3 linked regions of the Homo sapiens genome follow. The protein of the gene in region 1 purifies or fractionates together with the protein of each later gene. This does not show direct contact. Each region holds a gene or a part of one and is shown in the gene's direction. Other genes may lie near its edges.

Evidence for each region. The genes of interacting proteins can lie anywhere in the genome.
Region 2: the proteins of FOSL1 (region 1) and ATF7 purify together in Homo sapiens (co-immunoprecipitation; 2 studies listed by BioGRID and IntAct, with this or other methods). This does not show direct contact.
Region 3: the proteins of FOSL1 (region 1) and DNMBP purify together in Homo sapiens (co-immunoprecipitation; 2 studies listed by BioGRID and IntAct, with this or other methods). This does not show direct contact.

What each region holds. Positions count from the first base shown.
Region 1 is NC_000011.10:65,891,538-65,897,402, reverse strand, and holds the end of FOSL1 (fos-related antigen 1), read left to right. Parts: intron 1-396; coding exon 397-594; intron 595-3,281; coding exon 3,282-3,389; intron 3,390-4,106; coding exon 4,107-4,517; 3' UTR 4,518-5,354; downstream 5,355-5,865.
Region 2 is NC_000012.12:53,623,371-53,630,918, reverse strand, and holds the start of ATF7 (cyclic AMP-dependent transcription factor ATF-7), read left to right. Parts: upstream 1-4,536; 5' UTR 4,537-4,640; intron 4,641-4,922; exon of another isoform or gene 4,923-6,273; intron 6,274-7,548. UniProt on the Homo sapiens protein: Stress-responsive chromatin regulator that plays a role in various biological processes including innate immunological memory, adipocyte differentiation or telomerase regulation.
Region 3 is NC_000010.11:99,999,936-100,006,960, reverse strand, and holds part of DNMBP (dynamin-binding protein), read left to right. Parts: exon of another isoform or gene 1-724; intron 725-3,937; exon of another isoform or gene 3,938-4,019; intron 4,020-7,025. UniProt on the Homo sapiens protein: Plays a critical role as a guanine nucleotide exchange factor (GEF) for CDC42 in several intracellular processes associated with the actin and microtubule cytoskeleton.

The sequences.
Region 1 (5,865 bases):
GTGCCACTACACTCCAGCCTGGGCAACAGAGTGAGACTCCATCTGAAAAAAAAAAAAGAAAAAAAAGAAAGAAAAGAAAATGAAGATATTACTGTGCCAATGATATGAGTCAGTATTTGTAAAGTGGTTAGAACAGTTCCTGGCAGTTTGTGCTTTATAAATGTTAGTTCTAATGGGGAAATGGGGGCACAGAGAGGTTATGTGACCTGCCCCAAAGCCACACAGCTTATGAGCAGGGATTTGCCACCAGGTCAGTCTCTGACTGCCAAGCTGTGCTCTTTCTGTTCCCAGAGCTAGCCTGTACATTGAAGGTAGACAGCAGTGTAGCCTCTGCCCAGTGGAAGCCCCTCAATCCACACGGACCTCATCTGTGGCCTTCCATTTCTTATTCCTTAGAAGTTCCACCTGGTGCCAAGCATCAACACCATGAGTGGCAGTCAGGAGCTGCAGTGGATGGTACAGCCTCATTTCCTGGGGCCCAGCAGTTACCCCAGGCCTCTGACCTACCCTCAGTACAGCCCCCCACAACCCCGGCCAGGAGTCATCCGGGCCCTGGGGCCGCCTCCAGGGGTACGTCGAAGGCCTTGTGAACAGGTAAGGCACAGAGGCATTGCAGTGGTTCCGACCCCGCCCAGGAGTGCTAGGGTGCAGAGAAGCTCCTGCCAGAAAGGAGAGCACAGGCTTAGGAGGGGGTAAGGTAGGCTACAGGTGACTACTGCCCAAGGCTGAAAGTGATAGGAGCCCCACGGGAGGCCCAGAGGGTACAACAGTCACTTCCAGATCAGGGAAAGCTTCCTGGAAAAGGTGGCATATTAGCCTAGAAGGATGGGTAGGACTGGCAGAGGCAGAGAGGAAGGAAAGGACATTCCAGGTAGCGGGGGTGGCAGGAGCAAGGATGGAGGCGGAGGCAAGAACATGTAAGGTGCGCACACGGAATGGTGAGGGGGTCTCCACCTGCTGACATGCATAGAGGGGGCGCTTATGTTGTCTGGGAGAGAACAGGAACAAGAGGGTTCCCTTCAGCTACTCCCTCAGTCTCAGTTTCCCTGTCTCATTTAATCCTCACAAAATCTCTCTGGGGAATGTACTCTGGTTTTCCCCATCTTCCACCAAAGAAATGAAGGCACAGAAGGGTAGTCACTTGCCCAAGATCACACAAGTAGTGAGTAATGACACAGGACTGGCCTTGGCCCCAGGTCTATACAACTCTAAAGTCAGATCCTAACCACCAAACCAGGGCCAGGTGCAGTAGCTCATGCCTGTAATCCCAGCACTTTGAGAGACCTAGGCAGGAGGATCACTTGAGGCCAGGAGTTCAAGACTAGGTTGGGCAACATAGAGAGACCCTGTCTCTACCGAAAAAACAAAATAAAATAAAACCCCCAAAACTAATCACCAAGCCACGCTGTCTCACTGGAAGCTAACAGAAGGCTCAAAGTAGAGGGAACTGACAATTCTTGGCTCCCCAAAGCCCTTACCAAAATAAGTGAGTAAGAGATGGCGAGTCTTTAAAGGAGTGGCTCATCTTTCCTCTCCCTGGGGCATTTTGGTGTGGGAGACTACAGGGGATGAGGTTAAAAAGCTTGGTCGGCAGGTAGAGGATGGGGAGAGAGGTTAGGGCCCTGGGAAAGGTGAGAGATCAGCCAGAGACAGGTTTCCCAGAACAGAATGTCTGGCCTTTGTGGTGAGGAGGGACTGTGGTATGAGCCGCAGAAGCGGGCCAGGGGTAAACCCTCCTGTGCGTCCTTCCTTCAGCCTGGTCCTGAGGGTGACCCTTTGATCCTGGGTTCTCCAGGTAGGGCTGTGAGCTGTGAGTTGGATCCTTTTGGTGAAATGGTCTCTCTCATCTGGCCTGTCACTCAATGTGGAATAGAGTGAGTGAGTTCTATGGGTTCTAAGTCCTGCTCTGGAACCATAAGTAAGTTATCCTCTCTGGGCTTCAGTTTTTCATGGAAAGTTGCGTTAAGAATCTAGTTTAAGGCCAGGCATGGTGGCTCACGCCTGTAATCCCAGCACTTTGGGAGGCCAAGGAAGGTGGATCATGAGGTCAGGAGATCGAGACCATCCTGGCTAACATGATGAAACCGTGTCTCTACTAAAAAATACAAAAAATTAGCTGGGCGTGGTGGAAGGCACCTGTAGTCGCAGCTACTCGGGAGGCTGAGGCAGGAGAATGGCGTGAACCCCGGAGGCGGAGCTTGCAGTGAGCCGAGATGGCACCACTGCACTCCAGCCTGGGCAACAGAGTGAGACTCCGTCTCAAAAAAAAAAAAAAAAAAGAATCTATGTTTTTTTAAAAAAGAGGCCAGCTGTGGTGACTCCCCCTGGTAATCCAAACATTCTAGGAGGCCAGTGCAGGAGGATCCCTTGAGCCCATGAGTTCCAGACCAGCCTGGGCAACACAGTGAGACCCCGTCACTACACAAAAAAAAAAAAGAAAAAAAAAGGCCGAGCACAGTGGCTCATGCCTGTAATCCCAGCACTTTGGGAGGCTGAGGAGGGTGGATCACCTGAGGTTAAGAGTTCAAGACCAGCCTGGCCAACATGGTGAAACCTCGTCTCTACTAAAAATACAAAAATTAGCCAGGTGTGGTGGTACATGCCTGTAATCCCAGCTACTTGGGAGGCTGAGGCACGAGAATCACTTGAACCCAGTAGGTGGAGGTTGCAGTGAGCCAAGATTGGGCCAATGCACTCCAGCCTGGGAAAGAGTGAGACTCTGTCTAAAAAAAATAAAATAAAATAAAATAAAATCTTTGCATGTTCTCAGTGAAAAACAAGAATCTACGTAAAGTACTTGGCTGGCACATAGTAGTTTTCCAATAAATTGCAACTTAATCAGCAGCACTCATTAGCCCCTCCTAGTGCTTACAGCTCATGGAAGAGGAGACTTGGTTGTCCACAGATCCAGAAGGATGAGGGTCCTGCAAAGAGGGTGCTGAGAAGGAAAGGTCACTTCTGGCTGGGGAATAAGACGGCTTCCTGGAGGCAGGAGCATCTTAGTTGAGTCCTGGGAGATGAGGAGGGTTAGGGTTTGCGGAGGGGGAGGGCATTATGGGAGAGGAATGTGCACTAAAGCTAGGTGCGAGGAGGAAATTTTACCAATCAAAGCAGACAGCGCCTCAGTGCAGGGAACTGGTTGGGTGCAGTGATCCCTAAATCACCGGCTGAGGGGGCCCTGCCATGACCTCTGCCAGGGTCCTACCACTGGGCCACCATGAGGGGCGAGTTCCAGGCAGCCAGTAGCCCAGGGTCCTCCTCACTGCGGGTCTCACCCCCAGATCAGCCCGGAGGAAGAGGAGCGCCGCCGAGTAAGGCGCGAGCGGAACAAGCTGGCTGCGGCCAAGTGCAGGAACCGGAGGAAGGAACTGACCGACTTCCTGCAGGCGGTGAGCACCAGCCCTGGTCCACCGAGCTCAGAGGGACCCTGTCTCCCAGAGCCCCCAGAGCCCCAGTATATGTAGCCCCCTCCTCACCATCCTAGCTCCTTGTCTGAGGGGCAGTCCTTCTGGGAAAATGATGAGGAAAAATTGATTAGAAACTGGCTGCAGCATGTCTCACTCACAGCAGAGCTGAAGCTCAGCCAGCAATCTCCTTTTTTTTTTGAGACAGAGTCTCGCTCTGTCACCCAGGCTGGAGTGCAGTGATGAGATCTCGGCTCATGGCTCACTGTGACATCTGTCTCCCAGGCTCCAGCAATTCTTATGCCTCAGCCTGCTGAGTACCTGGGGCTACAGGCGCCTGCCTCCCTACCCGACTAATTTTTGTATTTTTAGTAGAGACGGGGTTTCGCCAAGTTAGCCAGGCTGGTCTCAAACTCCTGGTCTCAAGTGATCCGCCCGCCTCAGCCTCCCAAAGTGCTGGGATTACAGGCCGGAGTCACTGCCTGGTGCCAGCAATCTCCTAAAACGTCTGGGCCTGATGGGAGTTGTGCCCATTTTCTCCCAGGGGCTTATGGGAGTTGTAGTCCAGACTTGCTGGGGACTCTCCACTGCCCCCCCTCTCCCCCCGCCCAACCCCAGCTCCTCAGAACCCTGAGTCCAAACGTCTGCGGCTCTGGGGTATTCAGCCCTCACCTTTCTGACTCCTCTCCTGATCTTCTACAGGAGACTGACAAACTGGAAGATGAGAAATCTGGGCTGCAGCGAGAGATTGAGGAGCTGCAGAAGCAGAAGGAGCGCCTAGAGCTGGTGCTGGAAGCCCACCGACCCATCTGCAAAATCCCGGAAGGAGCCAAGGAGGGGGACACAGGCAGTACCAGTGGCACCAGCAGCCCACCAGCCCCCTGCCGCCCTGTACCTTGTATCTCCCTTTCCCCAGGGCCTGTGCTTGAACCTGAGGCACTGCACACCCCCACACTCATGACCACACCCTCCCTAACTCCTTTCACCCCCAGCCTGGTCTTCACCTACCCCAGCACTCCTGAGCCTTGTGCCTCAGCTCATCGCAAGAGTAGCAGCAGCAGCGGAGACCCATCCTCTGACCCCCTTGGCTCTCCAACCCTCCTCGCTTTGTGAGGCGCCTGAGCCCTACTCCCTGCAGATGCCACCCTAGCCAATGTCTCCTCCCCTTCCCCCACCGGTCCAGCTGGCCTGGACAGTATCCCACATCCAACTCCAGCAACTTCTTCTCCATCCCTCTAATGAGACTGACCATATTGTGCTTCACAGTAGAGCCAGCTTGGGGCCACCAAAGCTGCCCACTGTTTCTCTTGAGCTGGCCTCTCTAGCACAATTTGCACTAAATCAGAGACAAAATATTTCCCATTTGTGCCAGAGGAATCCTGGCAGCCCAGAGACTTTGTAGATCCTTAGAGGTCCTCTGGAGCCCTAACCCCTTCCAGATCACTGCCACACTCTCCATCACCCTCTTCCTGTGATCCACCCAACCCTATCTCCTGACAGAAGGTGCCACTTTACCCACCTAGAACACTAACTCACCAGCCCCACTGCCAGCAGCAGCAGGTGATTGGACCAGGCCATTCTGCCGCCCCCTCCTGAACCGCACAGCTCAGGAGGCGCCCTTGGCTTCTGTGATGAGCTGATCTGCGGATCTCAGCTTTGAGAAGCCTTCAGCTCCAGGGAATCCAAGCCTCCACAGCGAGGGCAGCTGCTATTTATTTTCCTAAAGAGAGTATTTTTATACAAACCTACCAAAATGGAATAAAAGGCTTGAAGCTGTGGCCTGAGTGCCTCACTGGACCCAGAGGCCAATGGGAGAGTATTTGGAGCCCTAGGTCCCAGCCTTAGCTCTACAGACTCACTGCATGACCTTGGACAAATTCTTTGATATTTTTGGACTTTGTCTTATCTGACAAGTGGGGCTACATCCGCTCGGCCTCATCTCCGGGACTGAGGGGAGACAGTCCTCTGGGGTAAAAGCGAAGAGGCTTACCGCCCCTCTCCCCGTGGGGGCCCACAGTGCTGCTGCGTGTGCCACGGAGGGGCGCTGTTATGCCCCCTTCCAGCCTCAGAGGAGGCGGCCGAGTGGTTCTAGGCCCCCAGCACCTGCTTCCTGCCCCATTGTCTTGGACAGGAAGGAGCCGGGAAGGGAGCTGGAGCCACTTCAGGGGCTGGATTAAGGCCGGTCCCGGCGCCCGATGGGGGAAGTCTGGTTTACCACTGCCCCGCATCCCACCCCAGGCTCGAAGTAATGGGGGAATCATTAGTTCTGCAGTCCTTCTGGATGGGAATTGTACCCTGTATCAGCACCCCACCCTCGCCCCAACCCCGGCGAGTACCAAACAGACGCTGCCCAGGCCGTGGGCTCCGCTTCCGTCCGGGTTTATTACCCCCAATCCAACCCCCAGCAAGTCCCTCCGCTCCAGCCTTCAGTCCCCCTGCTGCCCTGCCAGCAAGAGCGAGG
Region 2 (7,548 bases), on another chromosome or scaffold:
GAAAGAGGCCAGGCATGGTGGCTTATATCTGTAATCCTAGCACCTTGAGAGGCCAAGGCAGGAGAGCAAAAAAAAAAAAAAAAAAATTAGCCAGGCATGGTGGCATGCACCTGTAGTCCTAGCTACTCAGGATGCTGAGGTGGGAGGATCATTTGAGCCCAGAAGTTGGAGGTTACAGTGAGCTATGATTGCACCACTCTAGCCTAAGTGACAAAGTGAGACCCGTCTCAAAAAAGAAAATAAAAAATATGAGTAAGTTTAACAAGAGAAACACAAGATTTGTACAATGAAAACCACAAAACACAGCTTGGCACAGTGGCTTATGCCTGTAACCCTATCACGTTGGGAGGCCAAGGTGGGAGAACTGCTTGAGACCAAGAGTTTGACACCAGCCTAGGCAACAAAGCGGGACCCTGTCTCTAACTTAAAAAACAAAATAAGTCCAGGTGAGGTGGCTCACACCTGTAATCCCAGCACTTTGGGAGGCCAAGGTGGGTGGATCTAACCCCATTAGAGATGGGGTTTCACCATGTTGCCCAGGAGTTTGAGACCAGCCTGGGCAACATGGTGAAATCCCGTCTCTAAAAAAATTTAAAAATCAAAAAAATACAAAATAAAAAACAAAGTAAACCTACAAAAAATACAGTTGAAAGACATTAAGAAGCTTTAAATAAATGTTAAGACATTCGATGTCCGTGGATTGGAATACGATATTGTTAAGATGGCAATACTCCTTGATCTACAGATTCAAGGGAATTCCTATTAAAATCCTAGATGGCTTTTTTGTGGAAATTGACAAGCTGACCCTAAAATTCATGTGGCAATGTAAGGGACCCAGTATATCCAAAGCAATCTCGAAAAAAGAGAACGAAATTGGAGGATTCATACTTCCTAATTTCAAAACTTACTACAAAGCTAAAATTATCAAGCCTTTTGATACTGGCATAAGGACAGACATATAGAAGAACGAAATAACATTGAAAGTCCAGAAGTAAACCAATATATTTAAGGTCCAATGAGTTTTGGCAAGGGTGCCAAGAGGATTGAATGAGGGAAATAATATCTTTTCCAACAAATGGTGCTGGGACAATTGTGCATGGAAAAGAACGAAATTGGACCTCTACCTCATACCATATACAAAATTATCTCATAATGAATCAAAGACCTAAATGTAGGAGCTAAAAACAACAAAATTCTTAGAAGAAAGCACACGTGTAAATCTTTATGATACTGTATTAGGCAATGGTTTATTAGATATAGATATGACACCAACAGCACAAACAAGATAAATTGGACTTTATCAAAATATAAAACTTTTGAGCTTCAGGCCGGGCGCGGTGGCTCATGCCTGTAATCCCAGCACTTTGGGAGGCCGTGGTGGGCGGATCATGAGGTCAGGAGATCGAGACCATCCTAGCTAACACGGTGAAACCCCGTCTCTACTAAAAATACAAAAAAATTAGCTGGGCGTGGTGGCGTGTGCCTGTAGTCCCAGCTACTCCGGAGGCTGAGGCAGGAGAATGGCATGAACCCGGAAGGTGGAGCTTGCAGTGAGCCGAGATTGCGTTACCGCACTCCAGCCTGGGCAACTCAAAAAAAAAAAAAAAACTTTTGAGCTTCAAAGGACACTATCAGAAAGTGAAAAGACAACTAACCTGCAGAATGAGATAAAATATCTGCAAATCATATATCTGATAAGCATCTAGTATCTAGAATATATAAAGAATTCTTATAACTCAACAATAAAGAGGCCGGGCCTCTTTACATGCCTGTAATCCCAACACTTTGAGGGGCCAAGGTGGGAGGATCACTGGAGTCCAGGAGTTTAAGACCAGCCTGACCTAGTGTCTACAGACATTTTTTTTTTTTTGAGTCACAGTCTCACTCTGTCACCCAGGCTGGAGTGCAATGGCATGATCTCAGCTCACTGCAACCTCCGCCTCCCGGGTTCAAGCAATTCTCCTGCCTCAGCCTCCCAAGTAGCTGGGATTACAGATGCCCACCACCATACCCAGCGAATTTTTGTATTTTTAGTAGAGACAGGATTGCCATGTTGGCCAAGCTGGTCTTGAACTCCTGACCTCGTGGTCCACCTGCCTCAGCCTCCCAAAGTGCTGGGATTACAGGTGTGAGCCACCGCACCCGGCCTGGAAAATTTTAAAAAATCATCTGGACATGGTAGCATGTACCTGTAGTCCTGGCTACTTGGGGTGCTGAGTTGGGAGGATTGCTTGAGTCTGGGAGGTCGAGGATGCAGTCAGCAGTGATCATGCCACTGCACTCCAACCTGGGCAACAAAGGGAGACCCTGCCAAAAAAAAAAAAAAAAAAAGGCCGGGCGCAGTGGCTCATGCCTGTAATCCCAGCTCTTTGGGAGGCCAAGCCGGGCAGATCACAAGGTCAAGAGATTGAGACCATCCTGGCCAACATGGTGAAACCCCGTCTCTACTAAAAATACAAAAATTTGCTGGGTGTGGTGGCGTGCGCCTGTAGTCCCAGCTACTCGGGAGGCTGAGGCAGGGGAATCGCTTGAACCCAGGAGGTGGAGGTTGCAGTGAGCTGAGATCGTGCCACTGCACTCCAGCCTGGTGACAGATCAAGACTCCGTCTCAAAAAACAAAAACAAACAAACAAACAAAAAACATCAATTTAGAATAGTACCTGGAACATAGTAAAATCTATAAATATTAGCTATTGCATGTATACAGCGATAGCCAATTGTTCCACCACGATTTGTAGAATCCTTTTCCCTCTGATTTTATTTTTATTTATTTATTTATTTATTTATTTATTTATTTATTTTGACACGGAGTTTCGCTGTTGTTGCCCAGGCTGGAGTGCAATGGCGGGATCTTGGCTCACTGCAACCTCCGCTTTCCAGGTTCAAGTGATTCTCTTGCCTCGGCCTCCTGAGTAGCTGGGATTTACAGGCGTGAGCCACTGCGCCCGGCCAACATACAAATTTTTCTTATATATTTAAGGTATGTTTCCATCACTGTATTCTTTTAAGTAGGAATTGTTTTAGGGGAGAATAGTTTGGAAGCCAAGACTCCTCTCAACTTTTCTCAATTCACTACATAAGAAAGAAAGATTTTACATCTGTTTCATTTTAGGTATCTAGGGAGAAATCACCCAGATTCTTCCTACCTCTCAGAGGGTGCTGTGAGGATAGATGAGATGCTAGACAGAAAGTTCAGAAAGCTGAGTAACATAAAGCTGCAAAAGGAGAGAACAGAGATTCCATAGATAATATTTTAAGTCAACTACAATTCGTTAAATTTTAAGAAAATTATTTATTTTATTTATTTATCGAGACAGGGTTTCACTCTGTTGTCCAGGCTGGAGTGCAGTGGCCTGATGTGGGCTCACTGCCACCTCAACCTCCTGGGCTCAAGCGATCTTCCCACTTAGCCCCCCGAATAGCTACTACAGGTGCAGGCCACCATGCCCGGCTAATTTTATATTTTTTCGTAGAGCTGAGTTTTCGCCATGTTGCCCAGGCTGGTCTCAAATTCCTGGGCTCAGGCGATCCTCTTGCCTCGGCCTAGCAGTGTTGGGATTACAGACGTGAGCCACTGCACCCAGCCTGTTTTTTGTTTTTCTTTTTTCTTTTCCTGGTTTGTCTTGAACAAGACATATAAATGTAAGACTATAGACTTTGCATTTGATATTTCCCCCGAAATCTTCCCAGGTCATAATTCAACTCCTGGTGTGTTACTTCCTCAAAGAGGTCTTCTCTCAAACACTAGGAGTAAAGCTTCTTCCCCACTCCTAGTCACCTTCTGTCTCACTATCCTGAAGCGCTTTTCACTATTTGAAATATTTGTGTTTATTGGCTTTTTAACTGTCTCCCCTTCCTCACTCAAATATAAATTCTACCTGGGTTGGTAACTCCTTAACCCCATGCTTAGAACAATGCTTTGCACGGGGGGTATAGCTCAGGGATAGAGCATTCGACTGCAGAACAATGCTTTGCATGTAGTATGCCCTACGTTTTGTGAAAATATTTGCTGAATAATATAGTGATTTTAAAAAATCCCCAAGCAGTTTCATGTATCTCATTTGATCATTACAACTATTTGAATAAAATGAGATTGTTAGTCCCATTGTACAGAGACTCAGAGAAGGTTTTCACCCAAGGCAATAGGGCTAGTAAAATGGTAGTGTTAGAATTGCTGTGCGGGTGGATTGCTTTGTCCGTACATGGACTTCATTTCTAGCGCTAAGGGTATTTTAAATTACTTTGCCGTTAAGGAAGCGATGACTCTGAAAGATAGTAGTAACCACCACTACAGGCACCTGTAAAGATCCTCTCTCCTTTTTCCTTTCTTTCTCCCGCTAGATTCTGCAGCCGAACACGTGTGACCTGTGTGGACAGTACTCGCTCAGTCTCCCTCCCCAGCCCTGCCCACAGTAAGCCCGGCCCCTTCTTTTCCCGGAGCCCCCGCCTCTCGGCCGCTTTCCAACTCAGCCCCCACGGATCTCGCCCTTCCCCCGCGGACCCATGACTTCTCGCGAGAGTTGAGCGCGCCTGGCCGGACGGGAGGAAAGTATCCGTTCCGCCAAGGGGGGAAAGGAGGAGCTGGAGACAGATTGTAGGACCGAGCGCGGGCAGGCGGGAGGCAACGGAGCTACCAGCCGGTAAGTCCTTTTAACATTAGCTAGTCCATGATCTGACGGGAGTCTCCCTTTCAACTCTGGCCAGTCCCAGCGTTCCAGGCTGGGGTCTCCCCTCCCAGTCTGTGTTGGACGGGGGCGCTGAGGCGGTGGCCGGGCCCTGTCTGAGGAAGAGGGTGGGGCATAGGCCAAAGCCGACCAATGGGAGAGAAGGAAGCCTCGATTGGCGGCGATGAGCGCTAATGGGAGATCGCTTTTACGTTGCCGAGCGCCGCCCTTCTCTCCCTACTCCCGCCTCCTTCCTTTGGGGGGAAGGCGGGGCCAGAGGCTTGAAGTGTGGGGAGAACTTGGTGTAAGTAGCCCCGGGGGGCACAGGGCGTGGCAAGGAGAGGGGAATTGAATCCTGAGGGAAGGGTAGTCTAGTGGAGCCTAATGGAAGGATCATGGGATGGGGTGGAATGGGAGAAAGAGGAGGGATACTAAACTAAGTTAGAAACCCAGGGCTTCCCAAAGAGTGGGATTAGGAGCTTGGAATTGGAAAAGGGTAATAGGAAGGAGGTAGGAATGAGTAGATGAGAACAAAGATCTTGATCTGGTGACACAACACCCCGTTGGGTTTGGCAGAAAAGATAGATGGGGTGGATTATTGGAAATGAGGGTCATGGCATTTTGATTGAATTAATTAAAAGAACATCAGGGACATGATATCAGAGAGAAAGTATGGATTTGGAGAAAATTAAGTGAATTAATTTAAGAGGACAGTATGGGTGAGCTGAGTCGCCATAAGGCATGGCTTCTGGAAGGATATGAGCCTTGAGAGCGATAAGAGGTGTTTGGGAAGGAGATGGCTGATATACACATGTCTTTAGCCTAGGTATCAGGTGGTTGGGATATTGATTTAGGGCTTCTGGTGGATATGGCACCCAGACTGGTGACCAGCCTCCAAGATGCTGGGATGGGGGTTGAGAAGGAGAAAAATAGAACGCTTTCATCGCTTCTCTGATTTTCCTTCTCCCTCTCTTCTATTACCCAAACTCTTCCCAGACACCAGGATGTGGTCTTGGGACTTAAGCAGTCCAAGTTGGAGCCCCATAGGGACTTAATATGTTGCTCTGAATTGCTTGTTATGTTCTCTGACTGGGGTGTTTACAACCCAGGGCACCTCCTACCCAGATTCCCGCGTTGCTACTTTCCTAACTTTAAAAGTTTGTTTTCTGCTTAACAGAGGGTGTTTTAGTATCTCTGAGGGTCATGTCATATTAAGTACAGGTGTGTAGGGGGTGTGCAGAGTTTTCTCAGCAAGCTCACATGAGTCCTGTGTTTAAAAATTTTGCAGTAGTGTAATTCTTGTAGCGATATCAGTCTTTATGGGCATTCTAAGCAGAAATATACTAAAATGAAGTTTGTTTTGTTAAATGTGGCTTCCCCAGTCATTCTCGAAGAGTTGTCGAATGGGTGGTTGCAGTTTGTTTTAGTTAACTTACATAATGTGTTTTTAAATAGTGTAAATAAAATAGACATGTTATTTCAGGAAAGTGAAAAATGTTCAGTTTTTTCCTTTGTGTCCAGACTCAGAAACTAAAGCTATGTCATAATATCTTAGGCCAAGGGCTGGGGAAATCAAACACAATTTGTACTTACACATGGAAGTTGTAAGGTAAGTGGAGGCTCTTGCGAAATGTAACATGTCTGTAAGAAAAGAAGCTAAAGAAAAGTTTGCAAGCTCTGCTAAGTAGTCTTACCAGTTCTTAATTCTGTACAGAAAAGGGACAGGGCTTTGCCCTTTGTTTGATAGTTGTGTATCATTTAATAACGAATTGGACTAATATAGCCAATTAATAACTTCTTTGCTCTTGCGTAGATTTTGCTTTTACATTCCTTCTCTTCTCCTTTTACTTTTGAGAAGGGAAATAATGTCTGAAATATCAGTAAAGCTATTACATGAAGAGAAACCAGAGTACGTAGTTGTATTAACCTTTGGTTTTCTGCAATCAGCTGAAGCCTTTCTCCCTGGCCAAGAAGTTGCCCCTATAGCACATTGAGACCAATTCATTGCTGACCCGTTAGCATTAACTACTGAGCTGGGTTCTAGTATTTCACAGTAAGTGCATTGCTATTGGACATTCAGAACATTTCCAGTTTGCCTGGCAGCAGTACAGAAAATTACCCAGTGAGAGAGCAGAGTCCCTTGTTTTGGTCTTCTGCCCTAGAATTGGTGATTGCTTTGACTAGGGCACTATTAAACCCAAGATTTTTTTTTTCTCACTAGTGCTACCATCTAGCAGAAAGCTAGAGTGATAACACTGCTCATCTTTCAACTTGTGGATCAAAGTTTACACCCTGTGGTAGTTTCAGTGTTGTAATTTTTAAACACGTTTGTTTACCACGGTTTTAAAATGTTAATAGCTCTACTTACTGTATCTTGTTCTCTTTCCTTTCCTCATTTCCAACCCAAAATGAAAATTGTTTTTTCAACCAACTCTTAAACTACTTCTTTGCCTGGAGTAAAGTCACTGGCTCTGTCTGAACACAGCTGCTCTGAAGTTCTCAGAAGTTATTGTTTTGTGCATGTCAAGACCGAGTTTTTCCTAGGCTACAGTGGGAGGGAGTTAGTGTTACAGCAGCCTCCTATCCACGTCTGATAAGGAGGAGCCTTCTCCTTGCAAGGAAGTTTTAGGTGGAACAGATAGAACTCCACGTAAATGTCTAATAAAGCTAGCTCTTTTCTTGAGACTAGTTAGCATACTGGTATATAATTGTCCCTTATCCCTTAATAAAAGTACTAAAGTTAAGGTACAGGTGTTTCTTTGAGAAAAACAAATGCAGCATTCATTTAAAAGGAAAAAGCATTCATTTCTTTTGTTGTTGGTTTCTCAGAAAATGGTCCTACGATTTTGGAGTTCATGAAAAAGTCTTCTGTCTCTTTAAAAAT
Region 3 (7,025 bases), on another chromosome or scaffold:
TGTATTTTTAGTAGACGCGGGGTTTCACTATGTCGCTCAGGCTGGTCTGGAACTCCTGGCCTCAAGCGATCCACCCACCTTGGCCTCCCAAAGTGCTGGGATTACAGGCATGGGCCACCACACCTGGCCTAACTCATGGTGGGAGACTGGAAGGAAATGAGGAAGTGAGCAGGAGGCAGTGGGATGAGCATGTTCCAAACCCTGGTGCAGGAGCATGCTTGGCATGTTAGGGGTGGCAAGGTCATGGTGGCCAGTCAGTGTGGATGTGGGTTGGGGGGAGGTGGCAGCAGATGAGAGGGGGTGGGAGTGGGGAGGACACATCAGTGTAGGTCATTGTAAGGATTTTGGCCTTTACACTGAGTGAGGGGGAAGCCGTTGGAGAGCTTTGAACAGTGAAGTTGATGATGACTTATGTTTTAAAAGGATAACTGGCTGCTGGGTTGAGAATAGACAGGAAGAGGACAAGGGCTGAGTCAGGGAGACCTTTTCAAGCTAGAGCTGTGTGACTCACACCATAATTCTTCCCTGAGTCTTCGTTTCCTCATCTGTAAAATAACTGGGCCCTCTCTAGCTCAAGAATTTTAAGTTTTCAAGTAGTGCAGGGTATTATTTCTACAGGGAGGCAAGAGGATTGCGTGGGAAGAGGTTCTGAAAGTAAATCGCTTCAGATGACCTGAAAACTTGACACCAACCTGCCTGTAGCTGAATCATCCCAAATCAAGAGGTAATCAGGTCTTTTTCAGTCAGATTGTCAGGTCATGAGAACAAAAACACTGTTTCGTAAATATTCTCTGCTCATCCCTTTTGTACTTTGCTGATCCCTGAATTTTCCCTTCCTGATTGAAAAAGGATGAAAAGCTGTTACTCATCAACAGAACTGGCAACCAGAGTAGCTTTTGTTGTTTGGAAAATTGGGAACTTTGGGGAAGGAAACAATTCTGTGTTTATCGTAGGTCATAAGAGTTTTTCTTTTATAACACGCAAGGAATCTAAAAGATTGGTTTTGTTGTAGAATTCCCTTGTCCCATTCATCTCATGTCTCACAGGTGTTCATTCTTAATGCATTGCATGTGCTTCCTTTTGTTTATGTAGGAGCTTGCAAAGTGGGAATGTTTGTTTTATGTGTATGTATCTTGATTTATAATGCTGTAATTCATTTTCCTTTATGTAGTTTGGTTTTTTTTTTTTTTTTTTTTGGAGACTTTTGAGACAAGAGTCTCACTCTGTTGCCCAGGCTGGAGTACAGTGGCGAGATCTCGGCTCACTGCAGCCTCCGCCTCCCGGGTTCAAGCCATTTCCTGCCTCAGCCTCTTGAGTAGCTGGAATTACAGTCATGCGCCACCACGCCCAGCTAATTTTTTTGTATTTTAGTAGAGACGGGGTTTCACCATGTTGGCCAGGCTGGTCTCGAACTCCTGACCTCAGGTGATCCGCCTGCCTTGGCCTCCCAAAGTACTGGGATTACAGGTATGAACCACCATGCCAGGTCTCTGAGTAGTGTTTTTAAGATCCATCCATATTGTTATGTGTCTAATTCTCTGCTTTGGAATGCTGCATTTATACCCCATGCTGTTTGCATCCATTGGTTTTGCTTTATCTGCTCTCTGTGTAGTGAGTGGTTACTCAAGTTGTTCCTACCCCCTAACACCATAAATATTGCTGCAGTGAACATCTTCCTACATGTCTCCTTACAAAGCTGTATAATATTTCTGTGGAATTGCTGGATTATAGGCTTGCAGAGACTGAATTTGATTAAATAGTGCCAGATGCCTCTCCACAGTGGCTGCCCCAGTCTCTGTGCCTCTGGAAGTATTAATATTTGAGGACTCCTGTATCCTCATGTCCCACCAGCACTCGCCTCTTTCCAGCTATCCATGGTTTTCAATCTCGTAAGCACAAAGTGATATCTTGTCGTTTTAATTTATATTTCTTTGATGACTAGAGATTTTGAGTATCTCTTATACAGATAGCTTCCTCTGTAAATTGCTTATTCATGTCTTTGGCATTTTCTGTTGGAGTTGATATCTATTTTGTTGCTGTTGACTTGCAGAAATGATTTTATAATATAGGTATTTATTCCCTGTTATGTTTAGACTTTGCAGATGTCTTCTCATTTGGGCATCTTGACATCTGTTGATCAAATCTTCTCATTTAGTTCTCGTTTTGTCTTTGCCATCCTTTGATCAAGAAATATTTTTAATTTTGATGTAATCAAATAGATAAATTCTTTGACTTGCGGTTTATGTTTTTGGAGTTTTGTTTAAGGAACTCTTCCTGAACCCTAGGTCATGTCTGTGACTTTCATCTCTCTAGGGCCCGCATTTTCATGTGTTAGATAGGAATCCAGCCCTATTTTTCTCCATTTAATGACCCAGTTTTTCTAATAACATGTCAACAAAATCCATGCTTTCCTCTATGAAATTATGGTATCTCTTTCTCATTTGTGGTTTCCATGGATACACTTGTCTGGCCCTAAGCATTTATTTTGTTCCATTAGTCTGTCAGTTCTTACTTCATTTTTTTAATTGCTCTAATTTTATTACAGTGACTTTGTAGTATGTCCTAATGACTGGCACAGCAAGCCATTCATCTTAAAGTTTATTTAGCTCTTCCTGGACCAAAATTTATTTTTTCCATATAAAATTTGGAATAAGTTTACCAGGCTACCCAAACATTATATATACATATATATTTATATATATATATTTTTTCTTTTGAGACCTTGTGTCACTCTGTTACCCAGGCTGGAGTGCAGTGGCACCATCACGGCTCACTGCAGCCTCAACCTCCCAGGCTCAAGTGATCCTCCCATTCTAGCCTCCCAAGTAGCTGAGACCACAGGCATGTGCCACCATCCCTGGCTAATTTTTCTTTTTTTTTTTTGTAATTTTTTTAGAGATAGGGACGCCCTTTGTTGTCCAGGCCGGTCTTGAACTCCCGGGCTCCAGCAATCTTCCTGCCTTGGCCTCCCAAAGTGCTTGGATTACAGGCATGAGCCACTGTGCCTGGCCAAAAAATTATATTTTTGAGGAATTTTTATTGGAGTTTATTGAGTTTATAAATTATTTGAGGAGGGTTAACATCTTATTTTATTTATTTATTTATTTTTTATGTGCCATGTTGCTTTTTTATTTTTTATTTTTCTTTTTAAGACAGGGTCTCCCTCTGTTGCCCAGGCTGGAGTACAGTGGTGCGATGATAGCTCACTGCAGCCACCACACCCAGCTAAATATTTTTATAAGTTTTTTGTTGTTGTTGTTGTTGTTTTAATAGAGATGAGGTCTCACTCTGTTGCCCTGGCTGGGCCCTGGCCAGTAACTCCTGGCCTCAAATGGTCTTCCCACCTCAAAGTGTGCTGGGATTACAAGTGTGAGCCACTGAAATAGTAACTCATTCCATCCAAGAGCATATAATGTGTCTTTCCGTTTATTCAGCTCATTTTTCTGACATTTTTATAATTTTGGAAATAATTTAAAGCTAACAGAAGAGTGCTAAGAGTATGTTTTCTTTGTGTGCTTTTTCCCCTGACCCCTTTAATTGTAGACATCATGTCCCTTTAATCTCTAAATACATGCTTCATCAGTTCTTTTTGTTTGTTTGTTTGTTTTTCTTTTGGAATGGAGTCTCGCTCTGTCGCCCAGGCTGGAGTGCAGTGGCTCGATCTCTGCTCACTGTAACCTCCGCCTCCCAGGTTCAAGCAATTCTCCTGCCTCAGCCTCCTGAGTAGCTGGGGCTACCGGTGTGTGCCACCACGCCTGGCTAATTTTTTTGTATTTTTGGTAAAGATGGGGTTTTACCATGATAGCCAGGATGGTCTCAATGTGACCTTGTGATCCACGTGCCTTGGCCTCCCAAAGTGCTGGGATTACAGGCCTGAGCCACCGTGCCCAGCCCTTTCCCATTCTTATACTTCTTATTCATTTTTCTTTCCTTACAGCATTGGCCAGGACTACTAGAACTGTGTCAAAACAGCTGCTACACTAACGGGCATCTTTGTCTTGTTCTCAGTCTTAAAAAGAGTGAGTCTAAAGATTTCCTATTTCATATAATGTTTGTTTTAGGTTTTGTATGTTACCTTTATCAAGTTTTAAGGTATTACCCTCAATCCTAGTTTACTGAGAGTTTTCATCATAAATAGGTATTAAGCCTTACCAAGTACTTTTTCAGGATCTGTCCTTGAGGAAATAAGATGGCATCAGGAAGGCTGTATACCAAAATCCTAACCCTATGCTGACTTTGTTTCAAGCAGAAGATATTTATTAACCCTACATATATAATTTGTGGAAAGCATCTCAAGATTCCAATACAAGTTTATTTCACCATTAGGTCAGCTTTTTCCTCCTGGCATTACGAGTCAGAATTTAAATAGCTGATGTGAAAAATGAGAGAAAGAGCCATACTCAGGATGATAAGTTTTGTTGTCAGCATGATTGTAAATATAAGATATGTAAAATTATAGTTTCCTTACTCTGTGGATCGGTCTTTACTTCAGGCATAAATCTTACTAAATTATATCTCAAGAAATATTGAGGTGGCTCGTCAGTAGAGCCATAGATAGCTGTTTAGCAGCACTAACTGCTAGGGTGTTGGGCAGTGAATTCTCATGGCCAGCTCTTCTCTCTCTTTCTTTTTCTTTCTTTTTAGACTAGCCATTTTTTTTCCTAATTGTGAAATTATACCTCTTTATTACAGAGCATCTGTAAAATATAGAAAAGCGAATCTATAATCCTGCCTTTTAGCACCAACCCCTGCTAAAACGTTGGTTATTTCTCTGTCTCTGTTTTTTATTGGGGTGGGGGAGCATGTTGAGGAGGAGAGGGCACTTAACATTGCACTATATCATTTTCTATCACCCCTCCTTTTTCAGGGCTAGATCATTAACTCATGTTCATTTTGCTTTGATTGGCTCTCTGGGGAAAAATCGATAGAAAACTTACAATTAACTTGTAGCAGTGGGGTGATAGCTTGCTCCTCTCTTGGAACAGTTTATGCCTGAGGGAGCCTCCGTGCACAAACAGCCCAGAGTCATTGTCAGAACTTGGAGCAATCCTAGCCCTAAGCCCAACAGACCAAAAACTAGCTTAAGGGTGTGGAGGGGAGAAGTACTTTTGAGGTCTCTTTGCTTCAGTTCAGTCCTCCCAGGTTGTCACCTTCCTTATCTAGACCACACTTGCTTTAATCTTTCAGAAAATAAATAGAATGGAGAAAATAGTCATTTATTTTCTTTTGACTCTGAAAACCTAGCACAGGCCACGTACGGTGGCTCACACCTGTAATCCCGGCACTTTGGTAGGCCAAGGCGGGCGGATCACTTGAGCTCAGGAGTTCAAGACCAGCCTGGACAACATGGCCAAACCCCATCACTACCAAAAAATACAAAAACTAGCCGGGCATGGTGGCATGTGCCTGTAGTCCTAGCGACTCAGGATGCTGAGGTGGGAGAATTGCTTGAACCTGGGAGGTGGAGGTTGCAGTGAGTTGTGCTTGCACCACTGCACTCCAGCCTGGGCAACAGAGTGAGACCCTGTCTCAAAAAAAAAAAAAAAACAACAACAACAAAACCCCATCACAATTGTTTTGTTTCCCTAATCACTTTTTGCTAGTGTGGAAGTGACAGAATTCATAGGTGAACATCCCTATGGTGAGGAGATTCAATGTCTACCTGCCTTCCTTTCTCACTCTCTATCCTTTTTTTTTTTTTTTTTTTTTTTTTTTTTTTTTTTTTTTAATGAGACGGAGTCTTGCTCTGTCCTCCAGGCTGGAGTGCAGTGGTGCCATCTCGGCTCACTGCAACCTCCACCTCCTGGGTTCAAGCAATTCTCCTGCCTTAGCCTCCCGAGTAGCTGGGATTACAGGCACGCACCACCACACCTGGCTAATTTTTGTATTCTTTAGTAGAGATGGAGTTTCCCCATGTTGGCCAGGCTGGTCTTGAACTCCTCCCTCGTGATCTGCCCGCCTCGGCCTCCCAAAGTGCTGGGATTACAGGCGTGAGCCACCGTGCCCGGCTCTTTTTTCCCCCAGTGTCCTTTGGTGTTGAAACTGAAATTCCCCATTCCTGTACCCTGCTGGGTTTTTTTTTTTTTTTTTTTTTTTTTTTTGCCATAACAGGTGTCACTTTCTAAAACACAATGGTCTGCCTTCCCAATTCCTCAAGGAGAAAATTCTTCAAGGGCAGGAATCTTTGTTTTGTTCCCTGTTCATAACCCAAGCCCACCTCGAACAGTGCCTGGTACCTGATGTGCCCTCAACAGATGAATCTATAAGATGAATCAACCTGTAAAGAAGCCACACTGTGATCCAGAGAAGGGTCATCTAAGGGAGGGGTGAGAGAAGAAAGCTCTCTTAGCTTCCTTTCAATGCATAGGTTCAGCAGGCTAGTAGAATCCCCATTTTTGTCTTTGACATTGCAAATGAAACCATCCACCCAGACACAGAGAAATTAGCTCTCTGCATCTGTTCTAGCCCCTCCTGCGGAGGCTGCATTTTCCCGAAAGTAGCATGTGAATGTTTGTGTTGCTGACAAACACATGGACTGGGAGAGAATAATCAGCACTGACATTCTAGCTGTGGGTCTGGGCCCAGAGTGCATTCTGCATTGTTTTCATGAGGTGATTCTCTTAGGATAAATGAGCCTGCCCCATCAGCAGAAAATGTTGCAATGGATGTGCCGAGTTATGCTTACCTCCCCAGCCTCACACCCCAGGTCCTCCTGCTTTCTAGTTGGTTCTTTCCTCCCCTCCCCTGCAATGTGGAAACTTTTTAGCTTTTCTGTCATTTCCGAACAATAAGTATTCTGAACGGTAAGTATTCTAATCTGGTTCAGAATTGTTACGATGAACAGTTATGCCTTGCATACCTGGTCACTGTTTTCTAAAGCAAGTCTTCAAATTATATTAATAGCACTATATAAAATGCTAAAAAATTAAAAAGCTGCCACAAATACACCATAATGGTGTTCTTGAGGCCAGTGTCACACACCCAGTCTATCCTGTAGAGGCCATTGCTTGGCTCATATTCCTGAA